Homo sapiens: one gene and its partner. The protein of the gene in region 1 interacts with the protein of each later gene in a biochemical or structural test. Each region holds a gene or a part of one and is shown on either strand. Other genes may lie near its edges.

Region 1 (7,091 bases):
GTCATTGGTATACCTGAGTGTTTATCTTGCAAAAATGTTACTATTCCCTATTTTATCGTGTAGTGGCCTATGAAACGTTCTGTTGTGTTGTTTCTCAAATAAATACGCTTTTAAAAATGTAAGTAAATTTTCGAAGAATGTTTAGTATTTCTTCCAGAATTGTATTTTGGGATTTTGACCTTTTGGGATTGTGATTTTCAGAATTTTAGACTTTAGGGATTTTGATCTTTGGAGATTACAGTATTTTATTCAAAATTACGGTGTTCAGGACTGTCTTTTGAGATTATGTCCCAAAGCCAATCAACATATATTTAATTTAGTAATTTATTTTCTCTGCACTACTCTCTCTCTGGGTAAGGCATCACTGTACTGACCCTAGAAGCACTAAGTGATTACTGTTGAAGAGGATAGTCTATTTTCTGTTTGGAAAAAAAAAAAATTCAATACTAAAATTTTATATTAACAAAAAGTTTTTTTTTTTTAATCAAAGTACATAAAATAAAGGTGGACACAACTGTAAGTGATCACCAACCAGGGGATGTTTGGGATTTTTAGATGCATTAAAAGAGAGTATAGAGAATATCCACCTGCAAGTAAGATTGTATTCTTTTGCAACCCTGCGATTTTCAAATGGCACCCCAACACAGTCTTTGGTCAGGATAAGGGATCCTGCAGGCCTAGCCTTACCGTCCACATCAAATATAGGTGGAGGGATGCCATATTCTCCACATTTGGAGCTCTGTCAGGCTGCTCCCTTTCCACCAGTCCTATCCAGTGATACTGCAGACAAAGGGTGAGGCAACAGGAGACATCATACCGATGTTGATCAGGAGAGGAAGAAGGTGCAATCTTACTTCCAGGATTTCACATTTGGAAGAATGCCTTGGGAGTGGTGGGTAGCCCAAGGCTGTTCCCAGGAAAAGAAGCAGGCACAGGGCCCAGGACTCAGGCTCCATTTTGACCCAACGTTTATTGTCCTTTTACAACATGTCATTTTTTGGTTTAGAAACTGCTTGTGATTAGTTTTCCAACATTAACTCAAAAGCATGTAAAATAAATCAACCTACTCTCTATATAAACATCCAGCAACTGTGGCCCCTACCCACCTACCCAGGTTGGATAGGGGGAAGGGAGGGCTCGGGCAGCATTGAGTCAAGTGCAGATGCTTTACTGTGGCAGGTGGCAGTAGTGCCTTGGTTCACACCCCACACAGGTCCCCTGCACTGCCCCAAACTACAACAGAAATGGCATAGGCCCAAGGCCCAATTCCCTGTTGGTAATTCACTCTCCGCCTACCAAATGAAAATCGCTTTTATTTTATCGCTTTTGTTTTGTATTTTTGCAACAGAAACCCCCTGTCCAGAGTCAGACTGTAGCTGAACTGTTCAGACTGGAGAATGGAGCAGGCTGTGGGCGCACCCCTGGTCCCTCTCCTGGGCAAGCGCCCCCACCCCCAGGGAACAAGGTCCAGGCAGGCCAGCTCACTGCACGCTGGCCACCACCACTTAGCCATACAGGTCATCATCATTGTCTTCTGTGTATACACTGCCACCTGTGCCGCCTCCACTGCCCTGACTGGGGCCAGCTCCACCCTGGTTCCCTGAAGGGAATCTGTGTACAAGAGCAAAGCCAAAAAAGAGGGTTAGGACAGGGCCTGTGTAAGATTTCCACAACTACCCCTCTAGCTTCCTTAGGACTCCCATCCCTTTTGGTGTAGGTCCCCAAAGTAACTTAAGCACTGTCTAATGCTCCCAACCAACTTACCTGAAGCTGCCAAAGCCCCGACTCTGCTGAAGGGTCTGGGCAAACATCTCATACTTCCGAATGTCATTGTCACTGACAGAACGGCGCGCAAAGCGCATGGCTTCTTCAAAGTGATCTCGACGGATCTCAGGCACTGGATCATCCTCTTCTACCTCCTATAGTTGGTAAACACAGATCACTAGGGCTAGTTAAAGCCCAGCCTGGATTTCATCCCAGGCCTCCCATTACTGCAGTTTATTGGTCTCCTTGCCCTTCCAATCCAACCTGAGGTAAGATGCTAGGCCATGCTTCCTAAAATTGAGTCACTGCTCTGCTTAAAAACTTGTCAATGCACTCTGGAAAAGGGAAAACTGTAGGGACAGAAATCACATCAGTGATGGGGCTTAAGGAGGGGAGATGTTGACTGAAGTGGCTAAGGAAACTTTTTGAGATAGTAGAAATTTTAAGTCTCAACTGTGGTAGTAGTTATAGAACTTACACACACTTGTCATAAAGCATGGAAATGGTATATAGAAAGAGTGAATTTTATTGTATTTATATCATACCTTAATAAACCTTAATACTTTAAAAGGAAATGCCAATGGCTTTCAGTGCTTACCACATTTGGATTACATCCTACCTAGCGGTCTCACTTCCAGTGACATATATACTCTTAAATCTACCCAGGGTTTCCCAATGATTGCAATCCTACTACTAGAGCACATTATTTGGGCTGCTTATTCCCTTTATTCAAATTCTACTCTCTTCACAGCCCAGCTCAAAACCTATCTCTTCCATTGAGAGGCCAATTTCTGTGACTTATGTGACTACCTCCTAGGATTAGTTCATCAGTAGTTGTTAAGCTTTTATGGGAGAGAGAAGGGATGTCACAGACCCTTCAAAAGGGAAAGAAAGCCATTTATTTGCTCATTAAGTCCCATGTTTGGAACTTAATGAATTAATTAAGGGTAACACAAGACATAGTGGAAAACAAGTGAGATGACAGAGATCTTACCTTTATGGAACTTACAAACACATGAATTTGCCTTTTCATTTTGGGAGGTCTGTGGACCCTATCCCTTCCCCAACCATCAGGGATAAGTATATGAGTCTCATCTCAGCTCAAAACCTTGCTCTGTGGTTCACGCCTGTAATCCCAGCACTTTGGGAGGCCGAGGTGGGCACATCACAAGGTCAGGAGATCGAGACCATCCTGGCTAACGTGGTGAAACCACGTTTCTACTAAAAAAAAAATACAAAAAACTAGCCGGACATGGTGGCATGTGCCTGTAGTCCCAGCTACTCGGGAGGCTGAGGCAGGAGAATCGCTTGAACCTGGGAGGCAGAAGTTGCAGTGAGCCAAGATCGTGCCACTGCACTCCAGTCTGGGCAACAGAGTGAGACTTCGTCTCAAAAAAAAAACAAAAAACAAAAAACAAAAAAAACCTTGCTGTGTTTGCTGCACTCTCATACTTTGATTTCCCTCATGGAGCTTGGTTCAGACTGAGAATGGAGCCTGACCATCTCTTCTCGGCCTTATTCCAAATTGAATGGATTCACCTCAGCATTCTTTATCTTTGATGCCCTATTAAAATTCTTCTCAGTTAGATGATCTTTCCAACAGCTTCTACTCTCAACTCCAGGGCATGGTGGTGGCTGCTGCCTGGCTCTCCATGATTGGCACATCTGGGGAAAGGATGCAGACTCACCATGGCTGATGGGTTTGTCTGCCTCTCTCGTTCTCGCCTAATCTCACTCTCGATGGATTCACGGATGGCCAGCTTGCAAGCACGCTGGCAAATCTCTGTCAGGTCAGCTCCAGAGAAGCCATTAGTCATTTTAGCCAGGAACTCCAAGTCCACATCCTAAAAGCAGCAGCAGAGGTACCTTAGCATTTAGCCTCTCCTCTCGAGATACGCAGATCTTTGGGCTACCCGAGCACTCCCAACTACAGTTTGCCCCTTCTTTGGCCACCCCATTTTATTCCTGATTCTAGATTATCTTGATATCCTCAAAAATTCTACCTTCCCTTTAGACCAACCCTAACCCCAGTGGAATCTTGTCCAGAAACTAAAGAGCACTCCGTACCAGCCTGAGGACTCATGCAAGTCTCCCACAGCCCATGATCTTGCACCTGCCTTGGCAACTGGGGACTTGCGCAGGTTAGCCTTGAGGATGGCAACACGGGACTTCTCATCAGGAAGTGGGATGTAGATGAGCTGATCAAGACGGCCAGGTCTGAGGATGGCAGGATCAATGATGTCAGGCCGGTTGGTAGCGCCAATGATGAACACATTTTTTTTTGTGGACATGCCATCCATTTCTGTCAGGATCTGGTTGATGACTCGGTCAGCAGCCCCACCACCATCTCCAATGTTACCTCCACGAGCCTTGGCAATCGAATCCAGCTCATCAAAGAATAGCACACAGGGGGCAGCTTGGCGGGCCTGTAGGAGGAATGGATTGATTCAAGCACTAACAAAACTAGATGTCTCTAGGCAAACGTGGTGGCTCACACCTGTATTCCCAGCACTTTGGGAGGCCAAGGTGGGAGGATCACTTGAGGCCAGAAATCCGAAACCAGCATGGGCAACATACTGAGACTTTGTCTCTACAAAAAATAAAAAATTAGCCAGATGTGGTGACGCATGCCTATAGTCCCAGCTACTCAGGAGGCTGAAGTAGGAGAATTGCTTAAGCCCAGGTTTCAAGGTTACAGTGAGCCATGACTGTACCACTGCCCTCCAACCTGGGCAACAGAGCCAGACCCTGTCTCAAGAGAGAGAGAGAGAAAAAAAAAATAACACTAGGTCTCTCAGACCTCAGAAAGAAAATCAAGTGACTTACTGTGCAGTTGAGCAGCCAGCACTAAGAATATTTCAACCCTCTTAAAGAAAAACAGCCTCTATTCCTTGCCCTCAGGCAAATCAATACATAGTTCAGCCTATTGTAGCTCACCTTGTCAAAGATTTCTCTGACATTGGCCTCAGACTCCCCAAACCACATGGTGAGCAGCTCAGGACCCTTGATGGAGATGAAGTTGGCCTGGCATTCATTAGCAATGGCTTTGGCCAACAAAGTTTTCCCACAGCCAGGAGGTCCATAGAACAGAACTCCCTTGGAAGGTGTCATGCCAAACTTCAGGAATTTGTCTGGGTGCTCCACAGGATACTAGGAGGAAAAGGAAAGAGGGTTCAAGGCTACCTCCACATTTTGAAAGAAACCTAACTAAACAGAAGCATCCCCTCCATTATTTCATGGTGTACCCAATGGTATCAGATCCAGGTTCTCTAGAAGAAGACTCCTTAGTGCCTCAAACCTAAGAACAGTAGGTTCCTAAGTCGTGCTCTCACAACTCTTGCAGCAAATGTGTTGACACCCTGAGATCACCCAGATCAATTACAATGTACTGAGACAGTGACTCACCCTGGACCAAGTTGCCCTACCTGGACCAGCTCCTGTAGCTCACGTTTGACATCCTCTAGGCCCCCGATGTCTTCCCAGGTTACCTGTGGCACCTCTACCACGGTTTCCCGCAGTGCTGATGGGTTACTCTGGCTCAAGGCCCACTAGAAAAGGAGGGAAAACTGGGGATGAGACTTATCAAGGGAGGGGTCAAAGCACGTATGTGTGTACCTGAGGCACGGGTGTGGTCCTTACCCGGAAGTCATCCATAGTAACTGCTAGAGAGTTCATGACCTCGGCATCAATGGTCTCATCCTCTAGGTCAATGAGATCCATCTTCTTGCGGATGGCTTGCAGAGCAGCCTCTGAGCACAGGGCTGCTAAGTCAGCACCCACATGCCCGTGAGTCTCATTGGCTACCTGCAGAGAAAGATCTACTTACTATGCTGCCTCAAAGACCCAGCTGCTGCAGGAGGCTCAGAGACAATAGAATCCTTCCCCTGACTGCTATCCCTGGGTCCTCTCATTTCCTTGAATATATACTATCAATACCTTTATGGGCTGGGTTTTAAGTACTTAATTCTGGACTTGGGACCTAGAAATAAGGCTGCTCCAACAATTCTGATTTACTCTAAATGCAGCGTCAACTATGAAAAATGCCAACTCCCATTTCCTGGATTCAATCTCAGATTACTTCCTTTCCCCTGTCCAGAAATCAAAACCCATCTCCTCACATCTTAACCTTATGTCTCTAGCCAGTTCCCAGCAACTGCCTAGAGACACTGTAACGCCTGGTCAGCCATCATCATCACTTCACCTGTTCCAGGTCCACATCATCTGCCAGCTTCATGTTCTTGGTATGGATCTGAAGAATCTCTAAGCGTCCTGTAGCATCAGGAATTCCAATATCTACCTCCCTGTCAAAGCGACCTGTGGGACAGTACACAAACATAAACAGGGCTCATCTCTAGTCCAGAGGTAAGAGACAGGCCTAGGGTGACCAACCATCTCAGCCAGCACAGGATTGTCCTAATGCCAGCACTAAAAAAGTCTCAAGCTCTGGGAAACCTTTCAGTCTCAGGAAAACCAGGGTGGTTGGTCACTCTAGACAGGACGTAGGGTAAAGGAAAAAGACCCCTGGACCCAATCACTGTGAAGGGCTTCAAGAGGATTAGGTGACTTAGATGAAGGAGAGAAGTAGGACCTAAGCAAGGACGGGGTCAAAAGTATCTGGAGTCCTTACCAAATCGCCGTAGAGCTGGGTCAATGCTGTTGGGTCTGTTGGTTGCTGCCATAACAATCACATGTGCCCTCTGCTTTAGGCCATCCATGAGGGTCAACAACTGTGATACAATGCGCCGCTCCACCTCGCCATGAGTCTGCCAGAACAGGATGTCTGGTCAGAAGTGAAGTCAGGGCCTTTCAACCCCCCTCTATCCCCTCAGGTAAGCTCCTACTTTCTCTCTTTTGGGAGCGATGGCATCTAGCTCATCAATGAAGATGATGGCAGGAGCATTCTTCTCAGCCTCCTCAAAGGCTTTACGAAGGTTGCTCTCAGACTCACCAGCCAATTTGCTCATGATCTCAGGACCTGAAAGGATACAGAATGGAGACAATAACAAAATGATAGTCTTTCCCAATTCCTCCCAAAAATCAGTTATCTTGCTTGTTTGGCCCAGAGACAGGTCCTGGGTGAGAAGGTGGTAACCTCTGCCTACTTCTCACATCCTCTACCAGCCATTATCCCAGGACAGCCACCAGGCAAGGCTGGAGAGAAGCCCAGGGACTCACTATACTCTTCTCACAGTTGAACTGTAAAGGTGACAGCAAATGCTCTAGGACCTCTGGCTAGAGCAAGAGAGATGGCACACCAGATGGCACACCACTAAACAGCATTCTCCAAGAGCCAGTGATCAAAGTTCATTTGCCCCAAACCCTCTCAA
Region 2 (7,766 bases), on another chromosome or scaffold:
ACGCCCAGCTAATTTTGTTCATTCTTGTAGAGACAGGTCTCACCACGCCCGGCCCCATTCAAATATTTATTGAGTACTTACTCTGTGCCAGGCCCTCTCTCAGGCACTGCAGATATATCAGTGAGAAACTGTTTTTACATTCTAACTTAATAAAGGGTACTCAAAGTGACTACTCAGAAAGAGGAAACCAAGGTTCCAAGAGGAAATGGTTGCAAGGCCCTTCGTAGGCAGATATTGCTACCTACACAGCTTCTTTAGGGCCAAAGTTGGTTCTCTGGCTCTCCAAACCCAGGACCTAGCAAGGGTTAAAGGTATATTGCAGAGGGGAAGGCAGTGAACGGAAAAATGGCACAGTAAGCCCAAACATTCCCAGAATGGACTGTATAGGAGATTAACAATTGGGCCATATGGTTATAGGTGCGTACTCTTGAGGACGCCCAAAAAACTAAATTGTTGAATCTTCACATGCTATGTAGATACAAGTTGATGATAATGGTAAAGGTATTCCTGAAGTATCTGTAGGCCTATACACATGCTGATAATTAAGAGGGACTCTTTTTTCCTTTTCTTTTTTTTGAGACGGAGTCTCGCTCTGTTGCCCAGGCTGAAGTGCAGTGGCACGGTCTCGGCTCACTGCAACCTCTGCCTCTCGGGTTCAAGCAATTCTCCTGCCTCAGCCTCCAGAGTACCTGGGATTACAGGCGCCTGCCACCACACCTGGCTAATTTTTTGTATTTTTAGTAGAGACGGGGTTTCACCATGTTGGCCAGGCTGGTCTCAAACTACTGACCTCATGATCCGCCCGTCTGGGCCTCCCAAAGCACTGGTGTGAGCCACTGCACCCAGACTAAGAGGGATTTCTTTCGGGTAAGTAGATTTTCACTAGGCTAGCACTCAGCTTTTTTTCATCCCATGGGTCAGTACAAATGTGTCCCAACTAGGTAACAATATTGTTAAAAATCTTGTCTAATTCTCAGGAAGTAGTGTGGAACATGTTTAAGGCCTTCCATGTTGAAATGTGGTCCCACACCAAAGCCTTTGAAAATTAATAACAAAAATATGGCCGGGTGCGGTGGCTCACGCCTGTAATCCCAGCACTTTGGGAGGCCGAGGCGGGCGGACCACCTGTCAGGAGTTGGAGACCAGCCTGGCCAACATGGTGAAACCCTGTCTCTACTAAAAATACAAAAATTAGCTGGGCGTGGTGGCGGGCGCCTGTAATCTCAGCTACTGGGGAGACTGAGGCAGGAGAATCGCTTGAACGGGGAGGCGGAGGTTGCAGTGAGCCATGATGGCGCCATTGCACTCCAGCCTGGGTGACAAGAGCCAAACTCCATCTCAAAAAAAAAAAAAAAAAAGTACGTGTGTATTTTTCACGCACTCTACTCAGCCAAGCAACCAAATCTCTATTGTCTATGATTTACGAGTCATGTCAATCAAGTCAAAAAATTAGTGACAACTATACGACTGAGTCCTTCCTCCCCCACTGAACATCAGCCTATTTCAAAAGTTTCCGAGATGTTTTCTACAATGAAAAGCATTGTACTTAACAATTTGTTCCAGGCACAGTGGCTCACGCCTGTAATCACAGCACTTCGAGAGGCCGAGGTGGGAGAATCACCTGAGTCCAGGAGTTCGAGACCAGCCTGGGCAACACAGCGAGACCCCGTCTCTCCCAAAAACATTACCTGGCCCTGGCGATATGCACCTGTAGTCCCAGCTACTCTGGAGGCAGAGGCGGGAGGATCGCTTGTGCCTAGGAGATCAAGGCTGCAGTGAGCCATGATCTCTCCATTGCACACCTGCCTGGGTGACAGAATGAGACCCCATCTTTAAAATAAAAATTAAAAAAAATTTATGCTACAGATTTACATTTGGTAAATGTATTCTTTTGTCTTTGCTTTATTTGTTGTGTGTGTGTGAATTTTAAATGTCTGGGATAAATGATCATTTATAAGTATTTAATAAAACAAAAACCCTTTGCTCCTCCTATTAAATAACAGCCTTACCAGCAACTCTTTCCAAACACGAAACTATTATGAAACATGATACCATGTGCCAAAGCTGTCCTGGGGAAGGCTTCACTCACACACAAATGGCTGGATAATAGTATGAGAGAAACGAGGAGTTTCTTTACATATCACAAACAGTATCTTCAAGTGCATGGTCACGGAAGAGTTAAAGGGACAGCAGGCTAGGCAGACTACAACAAAATCATCCCAGTCCACTCCTAATACCTAAAAACAAAGCTGGCCGCCTGCTCCGGAAAGATGGGAGTACCAAAAGAAACCAAACCCAAACATCCCGTAATAAAAACTCTTGTGACGACTTCCCTGTTTAGGGGCACGCCGGGTTTCCTACTTCACTTCCTAAATGTCAGGCCCTACAGTGGGCGAGCCAAGGTCTCCTCCCTCGGGAGGCTCGCGGACCTAGTGCAGGGGAAAGACACGAACAAGACCCCAAAGATCTACGTGTAGGGAAGACTCCAATATAGAATTGAGCAGTCCGGAGGAGGAAAAGTTAATTCTGCCAGGATTAGGGTAGGAGGGGTTGAGGGAGGTGTCCCAGAGATGACTCTAGCTAGACCCTAGGGAGAGGGAAGGATTGGGGAGGGGTGAAGGAATCCTCCGAAAAGCGATGGAAAGTGACGGAGAAAGGCAGAAGCAAACCCACTGGGCGCCACCCCACTCCCGTGTCCCGAGACGCCCCCGGCCCCGCCCATACTCCCTCCCGGCTCCCAGGGCGGGGGCCGCGGGGGAAGTAGGGGCGTAGGTGATGCTCCCCTCCTCGAGCCGAGGAGGCGGGAGGCTGCGGCGTCGCCCCTCGCCGGGCGAGATCGGCATGGGGGCGACTCGGGCCCCACCCAGCCCTCCGAGAGGCGGTGATGCCGCGCTCCACGCCCGCCACCGCGCGGCAGACAGCTCCCCACCGAACGCGGACACTCACTTTCTCGTGGAAGATGGACTCCATGTTTATTTGTCTGGAGCCAACGGCCCCCACGCCGAACCACCCCCTCCAGCTCCGCCCCCTGCCCCTCTCCTCCGCCCACCCCGCCCCTCCCCGGCCCGCCCCGGTACCCCGCCCACGTGCCGCACGCAGACCAATCACCCGTGAGGATGCGAGTGTCGTGAAGCGAAGAGCGAGTGAACGCCGGGGACACGTGACCTTGGTAGCGCGTCCTCCTAGCTTCTGTTAGCGGGCCTTCTGGGGGATGCTACATCGCCACCTGCTGTCTGGAGGATCTTCTCCGCTTCCCACCCATTTCTATGGATTCTTAGGTTTCTGGGGGGAGGTCTGGACCGCTCACCTGGGTTCTATGTTCTTTTTGTTTTCCACTTTGACTTTCTACTGTGTTCATATAACTATTTACTTTCTTTCTCCTCCTCCTGCACTGAAAGTTTAGTAAGAAAAAAGCCATCATTACATTCTCCCAAAACCCAGCACTTGTATAAAAATGATAGCTAGGCCGGGCGAGGTGCTTCACGCTTGTAATCCCAGCACTTTGGGAGGCCGAGGCGGGCGGATCACCTGAGGTCGGGAGTTTGAGATCAGCCTGACCAACATGGAGAAACCCCGTCTCCACTAAAAATACAAAATTACCCGGGCGTGGTGGTGCATGCCTGTAATCCCAGGTACTCGGGAGGCTGAGGCAGGAGAATCGCTTGAACCCGGGAGGCCGAGGTTGTGGTGAGCCGAGATCGTGCCATTGCACGCCAGCCTGGGCAACAAAAGCGAAACCCCTCCCCCACCACCCCAAAAAAGAAAAAAAATGATAGTTAATATTTACATAAGGCTTTCTATGAGCTAGGCACTTTTCTAAATGCTTTGCATATATTATCAAATTTAATACAGCAAACTTTGATGTAGGTGTTGATGTTATTCATACACATGAGGAAACCGAGGCACGGAGAGGTTAAGAACAGCACAATGTCCAAGGTCAGATAGTAAGTTGTCTTGCCAGGATTCAAATCCAGGTGGCTTGTTACCAGTGTAGGTGTTCGGACCCTTTAGAGGGAACTTAGAAGTCCCATAAATTGTGTGGGAGACGGGGAGGTAGCAGCGGTTTGATGAAACTTAAATGGAAGGATAGGTGCAGATCTTGCACCTTGAAACCAGATTAAGGTGTACTTTTTTTTTTTTTTTTTTTGAGACGGCCCTCTCTCTGTCCCCCAGGCTGGAGTGCAGTGGCACAATCTCCCCGCTCACTGCAACTTCTGCTTCCTGGGTTCAAGTGATTCTCTTGCCTCAGCCTCCCAAACAGCTGGGATTACAGGCGTGCACCACGAAGTCCAACTATTTTTGTATTCTTAGTAGAGAAGAGGTTGTACCATGTTGGCCAGGCTGGTCTCGAACCCCCAGCCTCAGGTGATCCACCTGCCTTGGCCTCCCAAAGTCCTGGAATTACAGGCGTGAGCCACCGCACCTGGCCAAAGTGTACCTTTTAAAGGATGTGGGGAGCTATATAAATATTTTAAAAGAAGACATGTGGTCATGTTTGCCTTTTAGAAAGATCACTGGCTGCAGAAAAAAGCAGTTGCTGTTGAAGGAATCTTGGGAGAGACGATGGTGGTTTAAGAGAGTGTCTTAAAGATGGAAATAGCCCATTTTGAGAGATTCTTTGGACGTAAAGAGACTCAACAGAATGTGGTGATGATACCGAGTGGAGGAATACTAGCCTTTTTCGTCTTGAGTCGAATTACATAAAACGACATGGACAAACGTGGAGTGGTTTTAAGGAGCGGAGAGTTTAATAAGCAAGAAGGAAGGGAGAAGAAAGAAAGAAGCAGCTCCCCTGTACAGAGACAGAGGGATGGGTGCTCCAAAGCTGAGAGAGGAGACCCAGAGTGCGTGGGAGATACCAGCCAGTTATAGGAGGAGGATGCAGGAGGCGGTGTCTGATTTGCATAGGGCTCAGGGGACTGGTTTGACCACGCATGTCATTCATGTAGCCCCCTAATAAAACTGGCCATTCCACCCTAGCCTTTTAATATGCAAATGCAGGGCGCTATGATGTTCTACTCATGTGGGGATATGTGGGGGTGGCCATGTTGCCAGGCACTTGTGAGAACAAGGGCAAGAGGACGATGGTGGGAATCACCGTGTTGGTGGACCCAGTTTCTAACTGCCGGCATTTGCATATCAAACGTTGCCAGCTCGGGTCTAAAAGTCAGGGCTTTTATGCTAGACAGGAAACGTCTCAGGAGCTGCTTCAAAAGAGACAAAAACTTTTCAAGGACCCCTTTTCCTCTCTATCTGCCTAAAATAATTTCTTAATAACTCCTACCACAATGAGGGATTGGGGAAGGTAGGAGACAGAAATGTGAAGGTGACTTCTGGGTTTGTGACCTGGGCAGCCACTGTGGCAGGAGTGGTATTGAGAGCAGAAACATGGGAGGAGCAGCAAGGTTTTGGGAAGAGAATAAGATAGAGTTTACATTTTGGAGATACTGAATTTGAAATATCTATGGACATTTGAGTAATTATGTTGAGTAATGGTTGGATACCGAGTCTGAAGTTCAGGAGGCTGCTTTGAACTCAATGAGGAATTGTCATTAAAAAACAGATAGCTAAGGCCATTGTGGTGGTGCATGCCTGTAATCCCAGCACTTTGGGAGGCTGAGGCAGGCAGATCTCTTGAGGCCAGGAGTTCAAGACCAGGCTGGCCAACATGGTGAAACCTCATCTCTACAAAAATACAAAAATTAGCCGGGCGTGGTGGCTCATGCCTATAATCCCAGCTACTCAGGAGGCTGAGGCAGGAGAATCACTTGAACCGGGAGGTAGAGGTTGCAGTGAGCCAAGATCGTGCTATTGCACTCCAGCCTGGACAACAGAGTGAAACTGTGTCTCAAAAAAAAAAAAAAAAAAAAGTAACTGAAACCATAGGAGTGAATAAAATCATTTTAGGGAAAAGGAAGTGATTGAGAAGAGGGCTAGAGCTGAGCCGTGAGGATAGGAGAAGCAATAACCAAGGAGGAGGGAGGAGAAGCAAGAGAGTGTGACATTGTGGAAGGCCTGGGCAGGGGATGCTTCAAGGGGTAGTCAGTGTCAGTTGCTGCCAAGAAGTCAAGCAATATAAGGTCGTATAAGAGCCCACTAAATTTTGTTGCTATGGAGACCATTGGTGACTTTGGGGACTGCAGGTTCAGAGAAGTAGAGGGGGCAGTGAGAGGTAAGAGAATGGAGACTGCCAGAGAGGACCAGGTGCTGAAGGAGAGGATTCGGTACCATTTATCGAGCATCTCTGTGTGCACGGTTCACAGCCTTGTATGGGGGAAAGTCCATGTTCTTAAGGATTTGTGTGGCCTACCCAGGGAAATAAATTATAGTCTCATGAAGTGAAAAAAATTGCAAACCACCTTTTCTGTTTTTGTTTTGTTTTTTTAAATTGTAGTTGATGTCTTTCAAATGAATTAATGAAGTCGAAGGTCTTAGTCTTTTTGGGGCGCTTTAACAAGATATCTTAGAGTAATTTATAAACAGAAGTTTATTACAGATCTGTAATAAATTTACAGGCTAGGAAGTCCAAGATCAAGGCTCTAACGGATTTAGTGTCTGGTGAGGGCCCATTCCTCATAGATGGTGCATTTTTTTGTCCTCACATGGTGGAAGGGGAAAAGGGGCAAACAAGCTTCCTCTCTGCATAAGGGCACTAATCTCAGTCACAAGGCTTGGCCTTATGATCTAATCATCTCCCAAAGGCCCCATCTGTTAAACCAACACACTGGAGACTACATTTCAACAAATGAATTTTGGAAAGATACAAACATTCAGATCATAGCACCAAGTATCTGGGAATCATTTTTTATTCTCTTCCCACAACTTCTCCACGTCACCCCTTATTCCAATCAGTCCTCAAATGCTATAAATCCACTCCTAACTCTCTCTTGCCCTTGTCTTCATTGCTACTACTTAGTTCAAGCCCTCTTGGTATCTTGTGTACTCTAGTCCAAGGATCTTTGAATTGGTCTTCTGATTCCAGTCTCAATATGTCTAATTCATGGTGCTGTCAGTGATCTTCCAAAAATGCAAATCTCACAAGATTTTCTTTTGTTTAACAAGAATAACTGCATATCAGGCCCTGGGACTATAACCATGAAAAACACAAACAGTCCCACCTTCAGGGGACTTACATTGGCAGGGATTCTTAAATGATTACACAACTCTGACTTCAAAATCCTTCAGTGATGGCCGGGTGCAATGGCTCATGCCTGTAATCCCAGTACTTTGGGAGGCCGAGGCGGGTGGATCACCTGAGGTCAGGAGTTCAAGACCAGCCTATCCAACATGGTGAAACCCCATCTCTACTAAAAATACAAAAATTAGCCGGGTGTTGTGGTGGGCACCTGTAATCCCAGCTACTTGGGAAGCTGAGGCAGAATTGCTTGAACCTGGGCGGCAGAGGTTGCAGTGAGATGAGATCGCAACAGTGCACTCCAGCCTGGGCAACAGAGTGAGACTCTGCCTCAAAAAAAAAAAAAAAAAAAAAAAATCCTTCAGTGACTTCCTATTGCCATCCTATTGCTGGCCTGAAAAGCTCTGTGATCTGGACCAACCACCTGTCCTGTTCTGTTCTCCCCAAATTCTCTCTGCCCCAGTCACTCCAGACTCTAGTCATACTAGCTTCTTCCTTTTACTTCTGGAAAGTTCACTAAGGAAAAGTATTTTGTGCCACCGCTACACCTTGAGCATGCCTACATTACAGCACCATTACATCATACTGGAAGTATTACTTTATATACTACTGAACTATCAGCTTTTGAGGG

What was found. The genes of interacting proteins can lie anywhere in the genome.
Region 2: the proteins of VCP (region 1) and ATXN3 form a complex in vitro, tested with the Homo sapiens proteins (5 studies listed by BioGRID and IntAct, with this or other methods).

What each region holds. Positions count from the first base shown.
Region 1 is NC_000009.12:35,055,612-35,062,702, forward strand, and holds the end of VCP (transitional endoplasmic reticulum ATPase), read right to left. Parts: intron 6,740-7,091; coding exon 6,606-6,739; intron 6,528-6,605; coding exon 6,392-6,527; intron 6,079-6,391; coding exon 5,966-6,078; intron 5,569-5,965; coding exon 5,404-5,568; intron 5,313-5,403; coding exon 5,190-5,312; intron 4,915-5,189; coding exon 4,702-4,914; intron 4,191-4,701; coding exon 3,882-4,190; intron 3,609-3,881; coding exon 3,453-3,608; intron 1,920-3,452; coding exon 1,765-1,919; intron 1,612-1,764; coding exon 1,506-1,611; 3' UTR 453-1,505; downstream 1-452. UniProt on the Homo sapiens protein: Necessary for the fragmentation of Golgi stacks during mitosis and for their reassembly after mitosis. Involved in the formation of the transitional endoplasmic reticulum (tER).
Region 2 is NC_000014.9:92,103,583-92,111,348, forward strand, and holds the start of ATXN3 (ataxin-3 reference isoform), read right to left. Parts: upstream 3,001-7,766; 5' UTR 2,971-3,000; coding exon 2,947-2,970; intron 1-2,946. UniProt on the Homo sapiens protein: Deubiquitinating enzyme involved in protein homeostasis maintenance, transcription, cytoskeleton regulation, myogenesis and degradation of misfolded chaperone substrates.